2 separate regions of the Homo sapiens genome follow, and region 2 is linked to region 1. Evidence: fine-mapped expression QTL. A gene starts in region 1. The other region holds a variant in brackets. All regions are shown on one strand. Distances are between the middles of the regions. Region 1 holds the start of CYFIP1 (cytoplasmic FMR1 interacting protein 1). Region 2 overlaps CYFIP1 (cytoplasmic FMR1 interacting protein 1).

Region 1 (4,253 bases):
CATCACTTTATCATTTTAGTCTCTCTCTCAGGCTGTATCCGAGAGCCACACTTTTCAGACCCTTGTATCTTTACTCTTCAGGGACAAACCAGAGCATAGCTGAATCTCCAACGCCTTATGCTAAGCGAAACAAGCCAGACTCCAAGCCCACATGTGACATTCTGGAATGGGCAAAGCAGGAGGACTGAGGAACAGACAGGCGGCTGCAAGAGCGGGGAGGAGAGAGGCTGCCTTCCTGAGTATCCTGACTGCGGTGGAAGTCACTACAGTCCATGCACCTGCTACAGCTCACTGAACTGAACACCAAAAAGTGAATCTTACTAAAAGTTTAAAATAAATTTAAACACACACACAAACTTAGGGGGTACATTTTCTTTGAGCGCAGCACAGACACCTGTCTTAACGCAGGAAACGTCCTCCGCCACGACTCCAGGGCGCCTCGGTCGCAGTGAGGGCACCGGCACTATATCCCTACTGGCCCTACGAGTGCACACCTGCTACGGCCCGCGCCCACTCACAGCGTGACTCGTTCTTCCAGGCTCCGTGCCTGCAGATCTAGACATCACTTGGAAAACCGCTGGCCACCCGCAGGGAAAAGGCAGCATGCGTGGGGCCCCCGCGGGTCCCGGCCTGGCCGGGACTCTGCCGCCAAGCTGTCAAGCATAGCAATGTGCGCACTGCACCAGGCATCACCGCGGCTCCGACCACGCCTCATTCCGGAGTCCGACGGACGACTGCAAGAAACACCACCGCTCCCGGCGCAGCCACGGTGCCCTCCGCCGCCAGAAAACAAACGCTCCCGAGCCTCAGTCCCCAGCGGCGACCACGCGGCGCTGGGCTCAATCAGCAGCCGCTCCCTGACTGGACTTAATAGCGGAGCTGACACCGTCCAGACGCCCCTCTCAGCTTAAAACACGTTCCATCAACCCCGTTTCCCGATTATTCTTGCACCCTTCTTGTCACACCCACAATGTGCTGCAAATTAAGCTCACGCATTTCAGCCTTAAAATACACAATTCAGATGCTTGTGCGAAACAGTGCTGCCTCCGTAACGATCGCGCCTCCTTAACAAAGCCCAAAACTCCTCTCTCCAAGAATGCCCGGAATGGCTCCGCGGACCAGGCTCCCTCCGCTCCTCACAGGGGCACGAAACAAAAACGGGTTCAGATCTTGCTGCGCGACCTTAGTGCAACATTAACAATCTGCCTGCTCCTTACTTTCCAACAAAAACGTCAAACACTAAGGTATTCCTTCGCCACTGGAGCTGTGCCATGTGCCGGGGCGCGGAATCCGGGATCCGGGGGCGCGAGGCGGTGAACGCGGGGGCGGGGAGCTCGGGGCCGAGGCCGAAAGGCCGGGGGCGCAGGGACCGGGAAGCCAGTGCAGGGAGTGCGGGGACCTGGAGCCCGGGAGGCGCGGGAGCCCGGGGCCGGGACCTGGGGGACGCGGGGACCAGGACGATCCCGGAGGCCGCGCCGCCGGGGAGGCCGCGCCGCCGGGGTTGGGGGGGAGGGGGGGGTCCGTCCCGGCCCCGCCGCCGCCCTGGCCGGCCCAGGTTCCGAGGGGGACCCGGACCCCGCGGAGGCCGCAGGGCAGGCGCGGGCGAGCGGGGTTCCTCACCTGCGTCCGCGGCGGCTTGGGGGTCCTGGGCGGGCCCTGGGAGTTTCCTTGGCCGAGTGAGTCACTCGGGCTGGCCGGGAATGCGCCAGGAAACACTCGGCCTCCTCCCCTTCCTCCCGGGGCGGGGGCTCTCCCGGCTCGGCCTCTTCCTCCCGGCGCTCCTCCCTCCCGGCCGCGGCCCCGGCCGCTCCCTCCTCCTGGCGGGGCATCCCCGGCCGGGCGGCCCCTTTCCCCACGCCAGCCGCCGAAGGTGTCCTCCCAGGCAGAGAGCCCCTGGCTACCTGCCGGCCTGGGTCACCGCAGCCTGCGCGGGACGGCGGGGTCGGAGCGGAGCGGGCGTGGGGTCCTCCTGCGGGTCCGTCCGGTTCGGAGCGCGAAGGAACGGGGTCCGCACCCTGTCCCGGGGCTCCACCGGGTCAGGGCGGGGGTTGGCCTGAGCTGCGGAAGGAGCTCAGGGGGACACCCAGGACGCCCGTGTGGCGCCGCCCCACTTGGCAGGAGGCGCTCACCTGCGCTCGTCGGGAGGGTTCCAGGCGCGGGTCCCAGCTGCAGGTCGGCGCGCAGAGCCCGCTGGGGACCCCCCCGGCCGGCCCCTGCGGCCCCATTGCCTGCGGGAACCAGGGACAAATCCGTGCGCAGACCTGCGGGAACGGCGGACGGAAGAAAACCTGATTTGAGCTCGTGCCAAAAAACAATCTTGAAAGGCCGGTGAAGAAACATACCTCACACGGAAACGCTGAGTGGAGTCAGCTGGTCACAGGCGTGTTTAGGAAAACTGCCCTAAACGCCCCGCTCAGCCGCAGCAACCTCACTCCCCATTCATCCGCGACCCCTGGTTCTTACGGAGAACAGTAAGGATGGGCATCAGATATTCTAGTCTGGTCTCTAGATTATGAAGGTTTGGTTACCCCCGCTTGTGCTCTGCGGTAAGGCAAAAAGCAGCAAATGAATCCTGACCAGCGGATTGAGACAATCTACCAGTTGACTCAATATTCGGATATCACTTTCTCACATTCCTGCAAAACAGGGGCTTTGGATAACATTCTGGTTCCCAGTCCACACATTTTCAAATCAGCAGATTACTCCTTTTCTGTGCCTAGGGTGGAGTCTCAAAATTAGATTCCAAAGGTTTTTACATTGTAGATGACATGATAGAACCCAAATTCAAGTTATACTGTGATAATTTAAAATATTGTAATCCCGGCCGAGCGCAGTGGCTCACGCCTGTAATCGCAGCATTTTGGGAGTCCGAGGCGGGCGGATCACCTGAGGTCAGGCGTTCGAGACCACACTGGCCAACATGGTGAAGACCCCGTCTCTACTAAAAATACAAAAATTAGTCGGGCATGGTGGTGTGGGCTTGTAATCCCAGCTACTCGGGAGGCCGAGGCAGGAGAATCGCTTGAACCCAGGAAGTGGAGGTTGCAGTGAGCCAAGATCGTGTCGCTGCACTCCGGCCTGGGCGACAGAGCAAGACTCCGTCTTAAAATAATAAAATATTGTAATCCCTAGAGCAATTAATAAAAAATAATACAGCTAAAAATCCAAGAAAAGAGATAAAATAGAATACAAAAATATGCTTGATCCAAAAGAAAGCAGGAAGGAAGGAGCAAAAAGCACATAAGGCAAAGACAAAGAGCAAGCAGTTAGACTTCAACCACATTAGTAATCACATTGAATGTAAATGGACTAAACATGTAATCCGTTTACTAACTGTAAATGGATTAAAACACAGAAATTGTCACATTGGATTAAAAACGAGACCCAAATATATTCTGTTTTAAGAAGACATAATTTTGGCCGGGCACAGTGACTCATGCCTGTTAATCCCAGCACTTTCGGAGGCCAACGCGGGTGGATCAACTGAGGTCAGGAGTTCAAGACGAGCCTGACCCACATGGCAAAACCCCGTCTTTACTAAAAATACAAAATTAGCTGGGTGTGGTGGCACATGCCTATAATCCCAGCTACTCAGGAGACTGAGGCAGGAGAATCGCTTGAACCCGGGAGGCAGAGGTTGCAGTTAGCTGAGATTGCGCCATTGAACTCCAGCCTAAGCAACAAGAGTGAAACCTGGTCTCAAAAAAAAAAAAAAAAAAAGACATAATTTAAATATAAGGACACAAAGAGGCTGAAATTAAAAAGATGCAAAAGGACATGCTAATCAGAAAGGTGGAGTGATTATATTAATATCAAAGTAGAATTCAACTCAAGGGGCACTATCAGTGATAAAAAGGACATTTGATAAAAATAAATGGGTCAATTAAGTATGAAAAAATAGGCCGGGCATGGTGGCTCACGCCTGTAATTCCAACACTTTGGGAGGCTGAGGCGGGCAGGTCATCTGAGGTCAGGAGTTCGAGACCAGCCTGGCTAACATACCCTGTTTCTACCAAAAATACAAAAAATTAGCCAGGTCTGGTGGCACATGCCTGTAATCCCAGCTACTCGGGAGGTTGAGGCAGGAGAATCGCTTCAACCTGGGAGGCGAAGGTTGCAGTAATCCCAGCTACTTGGGAGGTTGAGGCAGGAGAATCACTTGAACCCGGGAGGCGGAGGTTACAGTGAGCCAAGGTCGTGCCATTGCACTCTAGCTTGGGCAACAAGAGTGAAACTCCGTCTCAAAAGAAAAG
Region 2 (4,253 bases), 34 kb before region 1:
CTTTAGACTGTCAAAGGCTTGGTCCCTTTTGTCTCAGAAACTGGTTGCTTTAATTTGCAGGCACTCTGTTCAGGGTGTTCACAGTGACAGTGATGGGTAGGAAGGGGTCAGCAACCCACCCCTCGGTGTTACACCCCCCCCAGATTATTTGCCATTTTACCTGGAAGTACATGAAATTCATCAGTTTTGTGACCTCAGGCTCCAGAACCTCCACGGTTTTCTCGTAGATTTCCACTCTGTTAGGCTGCTCGTTACATTTCACCTGGGAATAAAGGAACAAGGATGACATAAGAGGCTTTGATCCAGCCAGAAGCAGCCGCTGGGCTTCTAGAGCTAGTGATCCCGCCCTGCTGTGGGGTGAGAACTGGGAGGAGAGTGGGCCAGGCATGGCAGGGGCAGGGGTGTGGTGTGGCAGGGGCCTGGCAGGGTGTGGCTGGAGGGGAAGAGCCAGGCGAGCGTGGCACCTGTGGGATGGCCCGGGAGCAGCTCCTCCAGGTGTACAGCATGACAGCATATTCTTGGCCCTCCTCCAGCATCTCGTTCTGCAATGGAACACAGGGCAAATCAAAGGCAGGCGGGGGAACTAGCATGAAAAGCAGATGCCAGTTGCTAAAATCCAGACAAAGCGCCACAAACTATCCTAAGCACTGTGGCCTGTGTGCCAAGAGACGGCTGCCAGAAGCTAGTGACACTGAGGTGCGGCGCTGGGGGCCACAATGACCACCCAAAACACCCCATGGCTTCTGCAGGCGAGAGGGGTGTCAGTGACACGCAGGCATCTCTGAGGGGTGCCACAGGCGTTACACCTTGGCTCCACCCAGCCCTCAACAACCTGCTGGCCATGAGACCTGCAGTTAGGAACACAGAGGAAGGGCTCAGGGCAGACGCCCTGCCCGGTGTGAGCACACACAGGATCCCCATGGCCTCCTCACTGGCTCACAGGGCCTCCCGGTCCCAGAGAGGACTAGAGGCAGGGCTGCCAGCCCCGGGTGTGCAGGAGGAAAAGTTAGGAGCACGCCCACAGCACTTAAAATCTAGGTAGAGAGTCCATGGGAAGAGGACTGTCATCACTGCTGTAAAACTGCTTTTGCTTTCCACTCTTTAACATCGTTTCCTTTGGAAAAAATCAAATAGATGCTCTTAAATCTAGCCTTTATTTAGTGAGACGTTCATCACAGTATTTTTTTTTTTTTTTGAGACGAGTCTTGCTCTGTCCCCCAGGCTGGAGTGCAGTGGCACGATCTCAGCTCACTGCAACCTCTGCCTCCCGGGTTCAAGCAATTCTCTTGCCTCAGCCTCCTGAGTAGCTGGGATTACAGGTGTGCGCACCACCATGCCTGGTTAATTTTTGTATTTTTTTTTTTTTGTAGAGACAGGGTTTCACCATGTTGGCCAGGCTGGTCTCGAACTCCTGACCCTAGGTGATCCGCCCACTTTGGCCTCCCAAAATGCTGGGATTACAGGCGTGGGCCACTGCGCCCAGCCTACAGCATTTTTTTATTACACGACATAAAAGAGGAAGTCAATGCGCAAAAATAGTTGAATTGTGGACATTTACAAAATGGTTTACGTAGCCATTAAGGATTGCTTTCTCTAGCACATTTTCATGGCATGAAAATATTCTTGTCCAGGTGCAGTGGCTCAGGCTGTAATCCCAGTACTTTGGGAGGCTGGGCAGGCGGATTCCTTGAGTCCAGGAATTCAAGACCAACCTGGGCAACATGGTGAGACCTCGCCTCTACAAAAAACACAAAAAAGTAGATGGGCATGGTGGTGTGTGCCTGTAGTCCCAGCTACTCAGGAGGCAGAGGTGGGAGGATTGCTTGAACCCGGGAGGTTGAGGCTGCAGTGAGCCCTAATCACACCACTGCACTCTAGCCTGGGCAACCTGAGTGAGACCATCTCAAAAAAAAAAAAGAAAGAAAGAAAACCTGTTGATGAGA[C/T]CATTAAAATGCAGAACTAGCTAGGTGTGGTGGCTCATGCCTGTAATCCCAGCACTTTGGGAGGCTAAGGTGGGCAGATCACTTGAGGTCAGGAATTCGAGACCAGCCCGACCAACATGGTGAAACCCTGTCTCTACTAAAAATGCACAAATTAGCTGGGCGTAGTGGTGGGCGCCAGTAGTCCCAGCTACTCGGGAGGCTGAGGCACAAGAACTGCTTGAACCTGGGAGGCGGAGGTTGCAGTGAACCAAGATCGCGCCACTGTACTCCAGCCTGGGTGGCAGAGCAAGACTCTGTCTCAAAAAAAAAGCAGAACTATAATAACAATGCAATTCATTTATAAATCTAAATCTCATATGGGCACATACCTGGTGTGTGTGGGTGCAGATCTGGAGAGGGAATGAGCATTAACAGGGCAGGTGCACCCTTGAAACGCTGACAAAGGTTTTCTCTGGGCCAGAGACATTGAATTTTCAGAACCAGCATGTATTGTTTTTACACTAAGAAAAGCAAAGACTGTCTTAAAAATATAAGGCATTTCATTCATTTTCTTCTCTTTTTCCTCACTGCATAGTCTATTGGGATAATACCAAAAAGTATACATCTGTCCTTCAAACACGCCCTTCTCTGCAGAGAGAAACAAAGACACACCGCAACATTACCATGCTAGAGTGGACGGTGGCTTGTTCAATGTATCTTGCGATGCCAGTAACAAATGCATTTCTGTCTTCAAAGTTAGTGTTGAAATTTGGCTGAAGGAAAGGAAGAGAAAAACATCATGTGGGGTCGGAGCACAGGCTGTACGCCCTGCAGCTGCTGGGCACCCACCTGGTAGAGCAGCGAGGATGGCGGGGGCTCGATGCAGGGCTGCTGGTCGGGCAGGGGCAGCTCCTCCAGGAGGTCCACGTTGGACAGCGCGTCCTCCAGAGTCACCTGGGCCGCCATCCTGGGCTGGAACAACACATAAGGACCCCTGTTCTGTGAGGAGAAGGAGGGGACACCCAACAAGCTTCGAGGTTGGGTACCCAGGCCTCTAACCCCTTCCCGCTCTCCCGAGGGCACCGGACATGGCTGACAGGGGCATGATCAGTCCTTGGGAGTTGCGTGTCTCTCTCAGGGCACGTGGGCCAGCAGGCTGGGAGGCCCTGTGCAGCTTATCCTTCCACACTCGCTGAGAACAGGCTCTCCTGGCCTCCAGGAGGGTCACAGTATGGGGCACATGGTTCCTGCCATCCTTCCCACCATGGGGGCCGCCGTCCTGAGTTGCTGGTGCTGAGGACTCTCTCGAGGGTCTGACGACCCCCTCAAAGTGCTGGAGGGGCAGCACCTCTCCAATGCCACATCTGCCCAGCAGAGCCTCCCTAAATGCAGCCACCTCCCAGGTGGTGCCTCCAAACACACTAGGGCCTGACATGGAAAAGACGAGCGCCCTGCCGCCCAACACCAGCTGTCTAGCTGCACAGACAGGCTGAGATTGCAAGGAGTATGGGGCTGCCGCAGGGGACAGAAAGTGCCACACCGCAGCTGGAGCAGAGGTGCAGAAATGAAGGCAGACATCGTCTAAACACACCTTCAGAGCCAGCTCCAGGGAGAGGGGGCAATCTGCCTTCTGCTGAATCTGCTCCAGTCTCAAGGGTACTCAGGAGGAGCTCTGCCCTGGGATGGGACCAGGGGCAGCTGAGCCACATTCTATGAAGGAAAGAGCAGCAGGTGGCCTGGAGGAGACACTGAACAGAAGGAGCCCCAAATCCCTCCTCCAGCACTGGCGCAGGCATGGAGGTGCACAGTGGAACGGGTAGTCAGTCCCACTGCACTGGCTGAGGGTGGAGAAGGGAAGCTCTCCAGGGACCCAGGAAGCCCCAGTGGCAGTGTGGAGAGGAAGCAGCTCAGAAGAGCCAGCCGACAAAATTGCTCATGAGCTTCAAGCCCATCCTCAAGCTGCAGGGGTGTGGATCTGATCCTCTTCACACCCCAAACCCTGAGACCACAGCCAGACAGCCACCAGCGGCACACAGGGGGCAGGTCCAAGTGGCAGTGCAGGAGGCTGTGAAGCCAGAATTGACATGGAGCTGCCACCCACTGAAGGCAAGTCAGAACCACAGCCCAAGTCTCCTCAGGGTGTTTGCTTTCTAAAATAAAAATATCAACATCCTCCTAGGATTTTAACAAGACCCAGATCTCATATCATAACATCCAACCATCCACTTACAGCCCAGATTACTCAGCACACAAAGAACGAGGAACGTATGGGCTCCTACAGGAAAAGAGAATCAACAGATGCCAAAATAACACAGGTGCTGCAATTATCCA

What was found. PIP is the estimated chance that this variant, and not a neighbour inherited with it, causes the effect. A credible set is the group of variants that fine-mapping cannot tell apart.
Region 2: its variant is the best candidate, but not a certain one, in a credible set for the expression of CYFIP1 in lung (TOPMed, PIP 0.72).

The regions. Positions count from the first base shown.
Region 1 is chr15:22,978,667-22,982,919 of GRCh38, forward strand. CYFIP1 (cytoplasmic FMR1 interacting protein 1) reads right to left here and starts at 1,702. Exons shown (of 31, transcript NM_014608.6): 1 at 1,621-1,702. RefSeq lists enhancers at 31-998, 999-1,967.
Region 2 is chr15:22,944,398-22,948,650 of GRCh38, forward strand. It overlaps CYFIP1 (cytoplasmic FMR1 interacting protein 1), which reads right to left. Exons shown (of 31, transcript NM_014608.6): 2 at 2,772-2,894; 3 at 2,606-2,695; 4 at 465-542; 5 at 161-262. The coding sequence starts at 2,888. Among named protein-coding and RNA genes, the nearest start is that of CYFIP1, 34 kb to the right of the region's middle. RefSeq lists an enhancer at 2,731-3,415. The variant C/T (reference allele first, on the strand shown) is at 1,944.